Regions from separate parts of the Homo sapiens genome. Here region 1 is linked to region 2. A link means that fine-mapping ties the variant in region 2 to the expression of a gene that starts in the linked region. Tissue or cell type: monocytes after triphosphate RNA. Region 2 holds a variant in brackets; the other region holds the start of a gene. All regions are shown on one strand. Distances are between the middles of the regions.

What was found. PIP is the estimated chance that this variant, and not a neighbour inherited with it, causes the effect.
Region 1: PPIG starts here. The variant in region 2 is fine-mapped to the expression of PPIG in monocytes after triphosphate RNA (Kim-Hellmuth 2017, PIP 0.95).

Annotation. Positions count from the first base shown.
Region 1 is chr2:169,579,466-169,587,552 of GRCh38, forward strand. PPIG (peptidylprolyl isomerase G) reads left to right here and starts at 4,886. Exons shown (of 14, transcript NM_004792.3): 1 at 4,886-5,025. RefSeq lists an enhancer at 4,802-4,851.
Region 2 is chr2:169,515,206-169,523,312 of GRCh38, forward strand. KLHL41 (kelch like family member 41) reads left to right here. Exons shown (of 6, transcript NM_006063.3): 4 at 2,985-3,170; 5 at 5,656-5,802. Among named protein-coding and RNA genes, the nearest start is that of KLHL41, 9.6 kb to the left of the region's middle. The variant CTGTGTGTGTG/C (reference allele first, on the strand shown) is at 4,947.

The sequences.
Region 1 (8,087 bases), 64 kb after region 2:
GTGTACAATTCAATGGCTTTTTAGTATATTCACAGAGTTGAGAAGCTATCACTCACATTTAGAACATTTTCATAACTCCAAAAAGAAACCCTGTAACCATTAGCAGTCACTCCCCATGTCTCCCTCACCCCCTCCTGTCCTCCAATACTTTAGACAACCACTAATCCCAGACAATAATTTTATACAGCACTGATTTGGGTTGCTTGGAACTAGATCAACTGATAATAGATCTGAGATGAAGGTAATCTGAATGCACAGCATAGAAGGGGTTTTCAAACAAATGTAAGAAAAACATAGAGATGAAACAGCATGATCCAAGTCATTGCCTTCCAGTCAAAAAACACCAGGAACACATATAGTTAAACAAAGTTGGGTTTATTGACTGGTTGCAATGAAGTAGGCTGTACCCTAAGAGGTGTCTCCATAAGAAGGTGTTAGAAAGTTGTCATTATAGCATATAGTCTTGGCCAGGCACAGTGGCTTACACCCATAATCCCAGCACTTTGGGAGACTGAGACAGGCAGATCACTTGAGGTCAGGAGTTCGAGACCACCTTGGCCAACATGGTGAAACCCCATCTCTACTAAAAATACGAAAATTAGCCAAGCATGGAGGCACATGCTTATAATCCCAGCTACTTGGGAGGCTGAGGTGGGAGGATCACTTGAATCCGGGAGGCAGAGGTTGCAATAAGCCAAGATTGCACCACTGCACTCCAGCCTGGGCAACAGAGCGAGACTCTGTCTCGAAAAAAAAAATTTTTTTTAGCCTTGTGTTAAGTGATTTTGGAGAGTTTTAGAGTGGTTTCTCTAGATTGGATGCTGTGAGTAAGCAAGGGTAATTCTATTCTAATAATCTTGATCTAGAAGGCAGGAAGAATGAACTGAGGTTAAAGCTGTAATTGATAAAGAAACAGCAGCCATTCATATTAGCAAGGATAGATGGATATTTCGTCTTTTTTTTTTTTTTTTTTTTGAGACAGAGTCTCACTCTGTCACCCAGGCTGGAGTGCAATGGCACGATCTCAGCTCAATGCAAGCTCCACCTCCCAGGTTCACACCATTCTCCTGCCTCAGCCTCCCAAGTAGCTGGGACTACAGGCGCCTGCCACCACACCTGGCTAATTTTTTGTATTTTTAGTAGAGACAGGGTTTCACCGTGTTAGCCAGGATGGTCTTGATCTTCTGACCTTGTGATCCGCCTGACTTGGCCTCCCAAAGTGCTGGGATTACAGGCGTGAGCCACCATGCCCGGCCGATGTTTGGTCGTTTTTACAGTTTGTACAATGTTCTTGTTTTTGTCTGAAACAAGATTATGGAAGTGTCTGGTTTTTTCCTTGATCCATCACAATCAGAGAATGGCATGCTTTTAAAAAAAACTAAACATATTATTGGTGATACAGTAGACAACTATTAATAGAACAAACAACAGTTTGTTGTTGATCTATGGGTAGAAACAAAAAGTTTTATTACTCTAAAGCAAAAGTCACAGGTAAAGTAAAGGTTAATTGCAGTAGCCCAGCCAACCTACCTCCCTTCTTCTGGTATCAAATCCCATTCCTCATACTACAATGACTGAAGTGATCCAGGCTAGGCCAAATCTAATACTTTAGGCTCACAGCCTATTAGATTGGTAGTGGTATCTGGTGTAACAAATAAAGCCAAACATCAGTGATTTAACCCACATAATTTGATTTATCAGTCACACCACATTCCAATGTGGATATCCCTAGTCAGTGGAAGAGGACTTTTCTCCAAACAGAGATTCAGGGAAGTAGACCTTTTCCATAGGCCCTTCCCCAGGGCCTTAAAACATTCTGGTTCAGCTGACAAAACAGGAAGAGAGGGAATGGAGAAGGCATAGCACTTCACAAACATTTTGGCCTGGATGTCCGCTCACTTTCCACTGACACAAAGTATATTTTATTTATTTTATATTTTATTTTATTTTATTTTATTTTATTTATTTTGACATGGAGTCTTGCTCTGTCACCCAGGCTAGAGTGCAGTGGTGCAATCTTGGCTCACTGCAACCTCCACCTCCTGGGTTCAAGCGATTCTCCTGCCTCAGCCTCCCAAGTAGCTGGGATTACAGGTGCCCACCACTGTGCCCGGCTAATTTTTGTATTTTTAGTAGAGCTGGAGTTTCACCATCTTGGCCAGGCTGGTCTCAAACTCCTGACCTCGTGATCCACCCATCTCAGCCTCCAAAAGTGCTGGGATTACAGGCATGAGCCACCACGCCCGGCCCCAAAAAGCATTTTTAAATCCTTACCTATGGGATAATAAATGTTGTTTCAAGCCACTAAGATACAAGGGGACAGCTAAAAAATGTAGTTCTTAGCAGAACAGACACTTTCCAGTGACACCCCCTACTATGTAAGTGGGAGTACAAATTTTGGAGCTGTTACTGCTATGTTAGTAAAATACTTCTCTGGCATTTGATGATTCGGGCTGGCAGAAACTCAGATCCTTATGATGTGAGGTCATCACTGGGTGAGGTGGTACATACCTGTAGTCCCAGCTACTCTGGAGACTAAGGTGGGAGAATCGCTTGACTCCAGGAGTTCAAGTCCATCCTGAGCAACATAATGAGACCCTGTCTCTAGAAAAAAAGAAAAAAAATGAAGCTATGTAGAATTAGACAAGTGAAAAGTTCCGTGATAATCAGTCTATTCTTTCTTCTCTGTGTCAGTTATCCCTTGCTGTGTGACAAAATCATCCCAAAACTTAGTGGCTTAAACAACACTTATTTATATATATATACACATATATACACACACACGTACATATATGTGTGTGTATATATATGTATATATACACATATATAGTATATGTATACATACACACACTAGGATAATAAATATATATATAAATATATATAAGGAAACTATAGGATAACAAATGTTGTTTATTATATACACTATACATACAGTATCCTTCCATTTATTTATTTTTATTTAAGTTGTGGGGTACATATGCAGGTTTGTTACAGAGGTAAACTTGTGTAATGGGGGTTTGTTGTACAGAATATTTCATCACCTAGGTATTAAGTCTAGGACCCATTAGTTATTTTTCCTGATCCTCTCCCTCCTCCCACTGTCTACACTCTGATAGGCCCCAGTGTGTATTGTGCCCCTCTATGTCTTCATGTGTTCTCATCATTTAGCTCCCACTTATAAGTGAGAACATGTGGTACTTGGTTTTCTGTTTCTGCATTAGTTTGCTAAGGATAATGGTCTCCAGCTCCATCCATGTTCCTGCGAAGGGCATGAGATCATTCTTTTTCATGGCTGCATAGTATTCCATGGAGTATATGTACCACATTTTCTTTATCAAGTCTACCATTGATGGACATTTAGGTTGACTCCATGTCTTCGCTATTGTGAATAGTGTGGCAATGAACATACATATGTGTATGTCTTTATAACAGAACAACTTATATTCCTTTGGGTATATACCCAGTAATGTGATTGCTGGGTCAAATGGTATTTCTGCCTCTAGGTCTTTGAGGAATCGCCACGCTGTCTTCCACAATAGTTGAATTCATTTAAACTCCCACCAGCACTGTAAAATGTTCCTTTTTCTCCACAACCTCACCAGCACCTGTTATTTTTTGACTTTTTAATAATAGCCATTCTGACTGGTATGAGATAGTATCTCACTGCGGTTTTGATTTGCATTTTTCTGATGATTGGTGGTGTTGAGCTTTTTCATTATGATTGTTGGCTGCAAGTATGTCTTCTTTCGAAAAGCGTTGGCCGGGCGTGGTGGCTCACACCTGTAATCCCGGCACTTTGGGAGGCCAAGGAGGACGGATCACCTGAGGTTGGGAGTTTGAGACCAGCCTGACCTACATGGAGAAACCCTGTCTCTACTAAAAATACAAAAAATTAGCCAGGCCAGTCTGTGGCCCAGGGGTTGGGGACCCCTGTTTTAAGGTATTGCAGAATTGTCCCCTCCACACACAGCGAAGTGTAAATCCGTTTAATCTCTGAACTATCTAAAGATGAATATGCTGCTGCTCTCCTGCAATAAAGGGCAATGACTTAAAAGAGGTGGGGGTGGAGAGGCAGAAATGTCCTCTGTTTTACTGCTGTGTAAAACTGGTCACGCCCCTTAGAAGCACCACCACATGCCTAACTGTTGTTGATAATTAATTTACCTGATGCAAGTGAGTGAAAAATTTAAATGATCATAATTTACGTTGCCTTTAAACGACAGAACAATTTAAGTCCTCTAGTTAGCTAGTTCCTTTAAAACACACCCCACATCCCTACCAGAATCACTGCCCATCCCCCCCCACCCCCCCGCCCAAACAGCAATGGTTATTTATTTCTAACATAATCCGGGGACCCTTGCCCCTTAAAATAATTAAATAATATATGCCATATTTTCTCTAGAAGGCACTAGATTTGGCATCAAAAGACTTGCTTTGGCATTCAAGAACAGTGTGTTTGAGGAGGAGGCGTTTATCTTCCCTGAGCCTCAATTTCTTTATCTGTAAAACAACAAAGAACATCAAAGCTCTTTGTAATTTCTTCCTCTTTCCTCAAATAACACTTTGCTCATTACTGCGTTTTTAGAACTTATATCCTAGCGTTAAGTGGAAGCTTAACTGGAAGCTCCATGAAGGTAGGCCTTCCTTTCTGATAACCTAGCGTAAGATCAATAAATGTTTATTAAATGAGGCACTTTACTTCACAAAGGATATGGCATTTTAACGGTTACAAGCGTTCCCAGTCAACGCATCCACAAAGCATTAGGCCACCTATAAACTAGGAATTTAAAAGGCACCAAAATCCTAGAAGTCCTAGGAGGGCGTGGTGACGCAAGCAGGTGAACGCTGGCCGATGCTGACAACCCACTCCTGACGCGCTTCCGGTGCGACGCTGTCTCTCCATGCCAGGACTGAGTTGTGGGGGAGGGAGGCGGTTAGCGGGCTTTAGCGCCTTTTCTGGCGGCGGTAGATTTGAAGCGCTTCAAAGGACCGGACCCAGAGAAGAGGAAAACTCTACCGGTGCAGGTAAGTGGTATGAGGCTCAAGTTGTTCTGGCGGCGTCATTTCAGCAGTCCCTGCGTACGAAAGCGGGAAGGGCCTGGGAAGAGGGGCGGAGCCGGCGCGGCTGACCGGGTTGGGTTTACCGTCTTTCCCTCGAGGTATCGGGGCTGCTTGGGCCCAGAGGAAGTCCCTGAGGACCGCAGCAGTGCCTTTGCCGCTGTTGCAGAAGGAGAAGGCTTGCAGTCGAGCCCCGGGGCCTGGGGACGGTCCTTCCTCTGCCAGCCCCCGCCCTCCCCACTCAGGCGCACACCTCCCTCACTGACGCATTTTGCCGCACAAGCTGTAACATGGCGGCAGCGACTGCGGCCTGAACTCTAGGGAGCCGGGTTGATTTTTAAAGCTTCAAAATCCTAAGACTCAGCACTGTTGCGGGGTAGGTGGCGGGACTGGTGGGGAAGGGGGAGACAGCCTGACGTCCTGTCAGGCTAGGGTTGGAGAGTGACGGGCGAAGAGCCTGAATCACAGGGATTAAAATTGAAGACTAGCTTTCCTCCTCTTTCGACCTTTTCCTCTCACAGCACAGTGGCTGTCGTGCAGTTAAGTGGCAGAGGCCACTTTGTTAAGCATTTTTCTAAAACTCAAGTCCAGGGTCTTGAGCTCTCGCGAAGTTCCCCCGTGTTTCGGAGGAGCTGTGAGCTGCGCAGGCCTTTTAGGAGGAGATAATTACTCTTTAGGAGGAAGATGATGATTTCGGGGCTCAGTATGCCTGAAGGGGAAGTATGCTAATTTGGTTCTTGGTTAGTCTTTTTTTTTGAGACGGAGTCTCGCTCTGTCGCCTAGGCTGGAATGCAGTGGCGCGATCTTGGCTCACTGCAACCTCCGCCTCCTGGGTTCAAGTGATTCTTCTGCCTCAGCCTCCCAAGTAGCTGGGACTACAGGCACGTGCCACCATGCCCGGCTAATTTTTTGTGTTTTTAGTAGAGACGGGTTTTCACCGTGTTAGCCAGGATGGTCGATCTCCTGACCTCGTGATCCGCCCACCTCGGCCTCCCAAAGTGCTGGGATTACAGGCGAGAGCCACCGCGCACGGCCAGCTCATGTTTAGTCTTAAGGAGCAAAGTCTAGATGTGCTGGCAAGGAGTATGCACAATCGTTTTGGAAATGCTATAAAAGCACCATTTTGTGCATTGATTTTAATTTCTTTCCACGATAGCCCTTTCTGTGTGTAACCAACATTTTGCAGTAGTGAACACAAATACAAAAGTATTTGCTTTTATAGTTTGGTACTAACATAGTTGTCCAAAGAACAATTAGATGTTTTAGAAATTAGGGGGGCCTGATATTAACTTTCAGTAGTTAAAACCAGGAAAAAAGAGTGAGTGTGTGTGTGTGTCGGTCACACACACGTTTTTGTCTTTGTGTATTCCCATTTGGTAACAGGATGGCCGGTAATTGCTACTTTGTAACAATGACGGGTGGGGGGGTGAACATTTTATAAATTTTGAAATCGTGCTATAAAATCCAGAAAAGATACATTTAGAATGGCTGCTTCTCTCCTGTTTTTAATATATCCTGAAAATTTACCCGTTTTAGCACTCCCCTTTTTTTTATGTTAACGAGTTGGGACAGAATTATTTCTGTAACAAATTACATGGTTCTGTGTCTTAAACAAGAGTTCATTGTACATTGTTTGACTATTTCTTTATGATTCAGAATTATTGATGCTCTGAGATCCTATAGGGTCTTGTAGTAGGATTCTGCGCATTTGAATTGTTGGTTTCCTTTTTAAGGCTTTTCTAGGCAGTCAGTTGTCAGGAGTGCTCCTGCTGTCAGGAGTGTATAAGTATGTAAACTTCTTAGGTTAGAAAAATTTGGACTTTCTGGCCCAATTATCTTTCTGAGCTTCAGTTTCTTCACCTACCTGCAAAATGACATTTTGATCTCCACCTTCCATCAACTGTGGGCTTGAAAATTAAATACTCAGCTTTGTTAAAATTGTGTGTGAAGTTGGCTTTCATTAACTCAGTGGTTCCTTTATGGGTGAAGAGTGTTCATTACATTTATTTTTAACCATATAGTCGATTTACTGTGGTGCTTATTATTGTGGTCTTGCAGTATTGGTGACTTCTACATATTTTTGATATTTTGCCTTAAATTAGATTTTCTGTGAGGCAGCATCCTCTTCTTTATACAAAGGGAAAGTGGAAGCCATTCATAATAAAGTACTTCTGTTAGGACACTATCTGGGGTTAATTCTTTAAATAGTAGTTGCCCCTTTAGTTAGGCTTTTTTCCTTCCTATTAGTTTATAAATAGAGTATTTAAACATAATTATAACATGTTGTCTATTTTTAGAATCCCAGTGTACTAAGATGTCATGAAGGAATACATAGATAATTAATGCAAGTGACCTGAAGAGTTTGTTGCAAGTCTTTCTGTTGCATTGTGGCATTGCATGCTTTTTGCTTTTATTTATTTATTTTTTTCAGACAGAGTCTTGCTCTGTCGCCCAGGCTGGAGTGCAGTGGCATGATCTCAGCTCACTGCAACCTCCACCTCCTGAGCTCAAGGGATTCTCACGCCTCAGCCTCCCTAGTAGCTGGGAGTACAGGTGCCTGCCACCACACCGGGTAATTTTTATATTTTTAGTAGAGAAGGGGTTTCACCATGTTGGCTACGCTGGTCTCAAATTCCTGACCTCAAGTAATCCATCCGCCTCCGCCTCCCAAAGTGCTGGGATTACAGGCGTGAGCCACTGTGCACTGTGCCCAGCCTGACTTTTGCTTTTTTTTTTGAGACAGAGTCTCGCTGTCTTGCCCATACTGGAGTGCAGTGGCGTGATCTCGGCTCACTGCAACCTCCGCCTCCCGGGTTCAAGCAATTCTTCTGCCTCAGCTTCCTGAGTAGCTGGGATTACAGGCATGTGCCACCACACCCAGCTGATTTTTGTATTTTTTATAGAGATGGGGTTTCACCATGTTGGTTAGGCTGGTCCCAAACTCCTGACCTCATGATCTGCCCACCTTGGCCTCCCAAAGTGCTAGTATTACAGGCGTGAGCCACCGTGCCCAGACCTTTTTGCTTTTA
Region 2 (8,107 bases):
TATTTTTAGTAGAGACAGGGTTTCTCCATGTTGGTCAGGCTGGTCTTGAACTCCCGACCTCAGGTGATCTGCCCGCTTCAGCCTCCCAAAGTGCTAGGATTATAGGTGTGAGCCACCACGCCCGGTCTCTTCCTCTTTTCCTTTGGATCTGCACACTAAAATGGGACATGGTTCTCACCTATCATATTGTGGAGGGAAAATCTTAAAATTTCAAGTCGCTGAAGTAAACATGTAGATACTCAGCATACTGCTAGGAATGAGCCTAATACCCCAATCATAAGCATCCTTACAGTCCAGGCAGTATCTAGGAGCATAATCAAGTCCTGTATTTCACTGATTTATAATTGTATTTTACTACATTAAAACCAATGGGTTTTCTTATTCATTTAGCCATAAGTAGATAAAAATTGAAAGGTATCTTTAATGTAGTATTTAAAATATATCTTCTAAGACAACTGTGCATAAAAAATATCATGGATTTGTACTTTACATTCATAAGAGGGACTTTAGATAGGTCAGTTTGAAAGAAAAGCGTGGTGATTGAAAAGAGGGAAGTAAAAAAGACAAAATAAAAACAAAAAATTAAGGCAATTATTTCCTCAGCAGTGTTCTTCCACATATTTACTCCCTGACAGAGGTAATATTCAAAATGGCTTCCAACTGTTCAAAACTGAGCTCCCAGTAGCACCCAGTATCTTGTGAGAAAACCAGGATGAGGTTTCATATATAAACCTAACTTGATTTCCAGTCAATTCTTAAGGAACCTGTAATCAGGAAAGAGATGTTATAACCCAGAGAGAGGAGAAGTGAGCTCCGAATGCTTCAGAGACAGTCAAACCAGTATAACCTGTCTAGTAAAATAAGCATTTTCAGTTTAGATGGTGAGAACTAATATTCTGCCCCTGAAAAATCTGCCTGATTTGGCTTGTCATCATTTGCCCAGGCCATTGAATTAATAGTGATGTCCAACCCTGAAAAGGGAGCCAAAATTTAGAATTGTAAGGGCAAAGCAGGAAAGGAGAGTAAAATATAGAAATGTGTTAGATGTCAAGAACTCTATTCTGGAGTTAATGATTATTGGGTATTAGTCAATTTAAATGGTAAATATAGCACAGAAAAGGCGATTTTAAAAAGCAATGGTTTTTAAACATCTACCTGTATTCAAAGATAACATATTCTAAAATTTTTATATCCTCCCTAATCCCAGCTATTCCTATCAAATTTAAAGGAAGGTATATTATATGCTTACCTGGTGCCAGATCTTATTTTGGGCATTTTTCCTGAGTAAACTGAATGGAAAATCACTACTAAAGAGCATTCTGACTTTGGAAACACAGGAACCCTGCCAAATGATTTAAATTGTTTCCTTCAAGCAGCATTAGTAACTAGGAAATTGATATGTCAGTAAGAAGCATACAGTTCTTGTCAGTAGGAATATATCAATCTTGAGAATATGATTAACTAACACAACACTGCTTGACAAATGTCAAAGTCAAGAACTTTGAAATGAGTCATTATCTAAAAGTAAGTGCTGGGCTGGGTGCAGTGGCTCATGCCTGTAATCCCAGCACTTTGGGAGACCGAGGCAGGTGGATCACCTGAGGTCGGGAATTTGAGACCAGCCTGTCCAACGTGGAGAAACCCCGTCTCTACTAAAAATACAAAATTAACCGGGCGTGGTGCCGTTTGCCTGTAATCCCAGCTACTAGGGAGGCTGAGGCAGGAGAATCACTTGAACCCGGGAGACAGTGAGCTGATATCGCGCCACTGCACTCCAGCCTGGGCAACAAGAGCGAAACTCCGTCTCCAGAAATAAATAAATAAATAAAAGTAAGTGCTGAATTGCACCAGTTCCCACTAATGAATTTGAAGAACGTGATTTTGGATAATGTTCTTATCAAGAAGTGTTCAAATGATACCAATAGTCAAATATTAGAGGAAATGCTTCTACTCCAGATAACTGGTCTTTTACACAATTAAGAAAAAAATTGTCCTCACAAAAAAGTTAAGGTGTTTTTCATCACCAAATATATCCAGTTAATCAATTATTATTTGAAATTCTGAACTCCCATCAAATTATAGATAACTTCAAGGAACCATAAAAAACATACTAAGGGCGGGGCATGGTGGCTCACACCTGTAATCCCAGCACTTTGGGAGGCTGAGGCTGGAGGATCACTTGAGCTCAGGAATTCGAGACCAGCCTGGCCAACATGGCGAAACCCTGTCTCTACCAAGCATACAAAAAACTAGCTGGGTGTGATGGCACATGCCTGTGTTCCCAGCTACCTGGGAAGTTGAGATGGGAGGATCACTTGAGCCCTGGATGCGGAGGTTGCGGTGAGCCAAGATCGCACCACTGCACTCCAGCCTGGGTGGCAGAGTGAATAATAATTCAGATGAGTCCAGGTCTTTCTGGTAGCATTTAGCATGTAAAACTGTTGTCATGATTCATCAGCTCAGATGATTTGTTGTCTAATCCATAGTCCCAGATTTCTTAAAATGCACTGGTATGTTAGTGCTAATATAAAATAAAATGATCTATCATATAAAATTTAAAGTAGGTATATTTGCACCTAATTATTCTTTAAGTTAACTGATTCGTTCCTAGGATATTCAGATAATAAATAAACTTACCATTTGTTATTGAGGTGCAATAAAAGGTTTATGATTTTATTTTTTACTCAAATAGAGTAAAAAAACTTCAATTGAATTTAGTAGATACGATTAAAATCAGCTGTGCCTGGGGTTCTAAGCAGCTATCCAGAAGTAAAGGTACCCTATCTTCCAACAGTAAAATTAAGTTATAGTTTTGGTCCCCACATTTGGGCTTGTCCTTTGTTTAGTGGCATATGTTCAAATTAAGAATTCTTTGGAGTTTTCTGATCCTACTATATATTTTTCATGACAAGCAAAGCCAAATTATTAGTGAAGGTGCTGTCAAAAAAAGGTTCTAAAAGGAACATTTGTTTTTCTGTTTACAGAAAATGTACAAACAGGGTGTTTATCTTCAACCCCAAAAAAGGAGATTGGAAAGATCTGGCTCCAATGAAAATTCCTCGTTCCATGTTTGGAGTAGCAGTCCATAAAGGCAAAATTGTGATTGCAGGAGGTGTCACTGAAGATGGTCTTTCAGCTTCAGTTGAAGCTTTTGACCTTACAACAAATAAGTGAGTTGCCACATCTTAGTATATAGCATGTGAACAACTATACATTTTAATTGTTAACTTTGGATAAAAAGTTATCTTTCTAATTAGGATGTGGGGAGGGGAGGGTACAGAGCCACAGATTACAAAGGAAGTATTTTCATCTGGGTTTCTTTTGTTGTTACTGGATGTAAATCTTGTCTAACATTCTGATGCATTATATGTCTGTAATCTGGAACACATGACCCTTAAGTCAGTGTTGTCATGCTCTATTTGTCCTTGTTATTAACTTTGTGAATTTAGAAATGCAAAGGTAATACTTGTGAATAATTATGATTATTTTTAAGAGACAAGGTCTGGCTCTGTCACCCAGGCTGGAGTGCAGTGGCACAATCATAGCTCACTGCTGCCTCAAACTCCTGGGCTCAGGTGATCCTCTCACCTCAGGCTCCTGAGTAGCTAGGACTACCACTATGCCCAGCTAATTTTTGTTTTTGTTTTTGTTTTTGGTACAGACAGGGTCTCACTATGTTGTCCATACTGGTCTCTAACTCCTGGCCTCAAATGATCCTCTCACGGTGGCCTCCCAAAGTGCTAGGATTATAGGTGTGAGCCAGCACACCTGGCCCTGAATAATTGTCTGTGTAGATGGATATACATGTCTCTGTGGAATCATTTGATTTTAAATGTAGTTTCTTTATGAAAAGATCTTCACTTAACTTGTTAATGATTGATATCTGTAAAGTATGAATGCTTCCCAAGTTTTCATTCCTTTACGCTGTTTATAATTTTATTAAAAATTTCATTTTTAAGCTTTTATTGACTTAATGTGAAAAGATATTTGACAGCTATTCTTCATATAAAATTGGTCTTTTTAAAATTTTTGAGCTCACACATCTGGATGAGTATGTACCTTTTATATTCCTAGTTTAGCAATGAAGAAAAAAGAGAAATATTATTACTTTTTTTAGAAACATGTATGCCTGACTACAAAACAGACTTTAGTATCTGAAAATTACAAGGAACTTTTGTGGAACACTATTTAAATTATCATTAAAAATAATGTTTTCGAAGACTGTAATGTGGGTAAACACTCATGATGTAAGTTAAGAAGCAACACACAAAAATTGTAAATATCTTCTTAGTTTCATTTATATGTATGGAAGCTTAAATGTACATGCTTTTTAAAAAGATGACAAAATTACACCAAATTGTTGCTTGTGATTATGTCTGTAAGGTATGATTATGGAGATATCTGCTCTCTTGTATACCTTTCTGTACTTTCCAGATTTTCTCAAACTTTTTTTTTTTTTTTTTGAGACAGGGTCTCACTGTGTCACACAGGCTGGAGTACAGATTTTCTATAATGTACATATATTATTTTTATAATTAGAAAAAAATCGGCTAATTTTTTGTATTTTTAGTAGAGATGGGGTTTCACCATGTTGGTCAGGCTGGTCTCGAACTCCTTACCTCAGGTGATCCACCCACCTAGGCCTGCCAAAGTGCTAGGATTACAGGCATGAGCCACCGTGCCCGGCCTTAGGGTTGCCATATTGAAGGCTTTATATTTAATGAAGTTACATCTTTCAAATATTTTCTAGTAGCAAACTTAGTCATTTACTTTTAGATGCCTGTGCTCCTTGAATTTTTTTTTCCCCCCTTAAAGACAGGGTTTTGCTCTATCACCCAGGCTGGAATGCAGCAATGCGATCATAGCTCACCGCAGCCTTGACCTCAAGGGCTCAAGAGATCCTCCCAAGTAGCTGGGACTATAGGGACATACCACCAGGCCTAGCT[CTGTGTGTGTG/C]TGTGTGTGTGTGTGTGTGTGTGTGTGTGTGTGTGTGTGTGTGTGTGTAGACAGTCCATTTTGTTGCCCAGGCTGGTCTCATACTCCTTGGGCTCAAGCTATCCTCCTGCCTCAGTGTGTGTGTGTGTGTGTGTGTGTGTGTGTGTGTGTATGTGTGTGTGTGTGTGTGGAGGCAGTCCATTTTGTTGCCCAGGCTGGTCGCATACTCCTTGGGCTCAAGCAATCCTCCTGCCTCAGTCTCCCAAAGTGCTGGGATTACGGGCATGAGCCACCGAACCCAGCCGCTACTTGAATATTTATTTTTTATTTAGATGGAGTCTCGCTCTGTTGCCCAGGCTGGAGTACAGTTGCACAATCTCAGCTCACTGCAACCTCCGCCTCCCAGGTTCAAGTGATTCTCCTGCCACAGCCTCCCAAATAGCTGAAATTACAAGTGCGCGCCACCGTGCCTGGCTAATTTTTTGTATTTTTGGTAGAGGTGGGGTTTCACCATGTTGGTCAGGCTGGTCTCAAACTCCTGACCTCAGGTGATCTACCCGTCTCAGCCTCCCAAAGTGCTGGGATTACCGGCATGAGCCACCGCGCCTGGCTGCCTGGCCACTACTTGAATTTTTAAATTATTATTTCCTATAATTATTCAGTAAGTACATCTGGCATTTCTTTAAGTTTTACATTGACTATATTTTTAATGATACCTAGATGGGATGTAATGACCGAATTTCCCCAAGAAAGAAGCTCCATCAGTTTGGTCAGCCTGGCTGGATCTCTGTATGCAATTGGTGGTTTTGCTATGATTCAACTGGAGTCTAAAGAATTTGCACCCACTGAAGTCAATGACATATGGAAGTAAGTTCTCATCACTTCAATTTTCAGAATCACATATTAAATCAGATGACTGATAAACTATTTTGTAGTAAACAATAAGCCAGATTTTCCCAACATGCAAGCTACTTCTTGGTAGTAGACTAAACACTTCAAACCTAATTGAACTTCTGTACATGCCACTTACTTGAACAAGTATCTACTTCTAGTTAGCTCTGAGCCTGAGAAAGAAATCATCTGGGCAGGCCTGTTTCTTACTGTAAAATGAGAGTTGGACCTTTGATACTCTCAGTTTCATTCCAGCTCTAAGAGTATAATGCTATAGGCATCCAGTAGAGTGAAAGCCTCTTTGCTCCAGAGTAGTTTATTTCCTAACAAAACAGAGTTCTAAAAAAAATTTTATGTTTTTTACTTTTTTATTTTTATTTTTTTGAGACAGAGTTTCTGTCACCCAGGCTGGAGTACAATGGCGGGATCTCAGCTCACTGCAACCTCGGCCTCCCAGGTTCAAGTGATTCTCCTGCCTCAGCCTCCCGAGTAGCTGGGATTACAGGCATATCCACCACGCCCAGCTAATTTTTATATTTTTAGTAGAGACGGCATTTCGCCATGTTGGCCAGGCTGGTCTCGAACTCCTGACCTCAGGTGATCCACCCGCCTCAATCTCCCAAAGTGCTAGGATTACAGGCGTGAGCCACGTACCCAGCCTAAAGAAACATTTAACCTCTTGAGCTTTCCACTACTTCATTAGTTCTGTTTTCAATCTAATTTAAACAGCTTTCCAATTGTTTTAGGCTTCAGCTAATAAATGCTTTTTTAAAATGAAAAAAGTCAAAATAGCAATCCATTTTACCTGCCTGGAGGTGCCAGGCAGTTCTCCTAAGTATGACACTTGAAACTGTTACTCAATTGAACATTTTAGTGAGGCTATTAAAAAAAAAGTTTGTTTTTATTTTATTTTGAACTGAGATCGCGCCACTGCACTCCAGCCTCAGCTACAGAGCGAGTCTTAAAAGAAAAAAAAAAAAAGAAAAAAGAAACACAGAATCCCAGACCCTACTGAATGAGAATCTGTATTTTTTAACAAGATTCTTAGGTGAATTGTTTGCACATTTAAGTTTATAAGTACAGCTTTGGAAGAGTGCCATTTATACTTAATCAGTGAAGGCATACCACTAAGCCTGAGAGTGAAAAGTGGGTATTATTTGTTCTATACCTTAACCAGCAGATGCTTTATTCCCAGATGCTGAACTAAAAAGGCTGAAAAGCTGGTACCTTAACCAAACAATGATTTGTGCATTAGACATCATTTCCCCATGTTGTAATATTAACTAGCTGTGTAGAGGGCAAGAAAAAAAGTGGCTATGCAAGGAAATTAACTACTTTCCCTCCTCCCCCCAAAAAAGAGGGAGAAAGAGAAAAAAAATGAGATTTCCACGGAGCAAAGAGGCTAGAATTAGCAAAACAGTGAGATGGGGAAAAGCTGGAAGCAGTAGGAAAAAAGGATGAACTAATGAAGGCCGGGAAGGTTAGGGTTTTTTGGAAAACAGGGCCAGGTACCAAATATATAAATGGGCAGTGATTCTCAACCCTAGCTGTATGTTACAATCATCTGGGATGCTTTTAAAATATACCAGTGTCTGGGCCTTAACACAGACCAATTATATCAAAATTTCTGGAGGTAGAGTTGAGCATCCCTAGTTCCTAAAACCTTCCCAGTGATTTTTTTTTTTTTTTTTTTTTTTTTTTTTTTTGGTGAGACAGAGTCTCACTCTGTCACCCAGGCTGTAGTGCAGTGATGTGATCTTGGCTCATTGCAACCTCCAGCTCCTGGGTTCAAGCGATTCTCCTGCCTCAGGCTCTGGAGCAGCTGGGACTACAGGTGTGCACCACCATGCCCGGCTAATTTTTGTATTTTTAGTAGAGATGGGGTTTCACCATATTGGCCAGGCTGGTCTTGAACTCCTGACCTCAGGTGATCCACCCACCTCAGCCTCCCACAGTGCTGGGATTACAGGCGTCAGCCACCGAGCCCAGCCCCAGATGATTCTAATCAGCAGCCAGGGTTGAGAAACACTGATATTAAGTAATTGTGCTGTCAATCAGTGGGACCTCCCTGAAGCCCTCCTGGTTCCTAAGGGTTATCAAAAGCCATGCTGCCCCTGCAGGGAACAGTTACAGGCAGCAAAAGAAAGTACAGAATCTCCTGCTATAAAAGTGGCCCTGACATTGTTTAGGGAACCTAAAAGAGGGATCCTCTCTGATTGTGGTTTATTTTGCGATTAGAGCAGTGGTTCCCAAAGTTGCCTGCACGTTCGAATCACCAGGG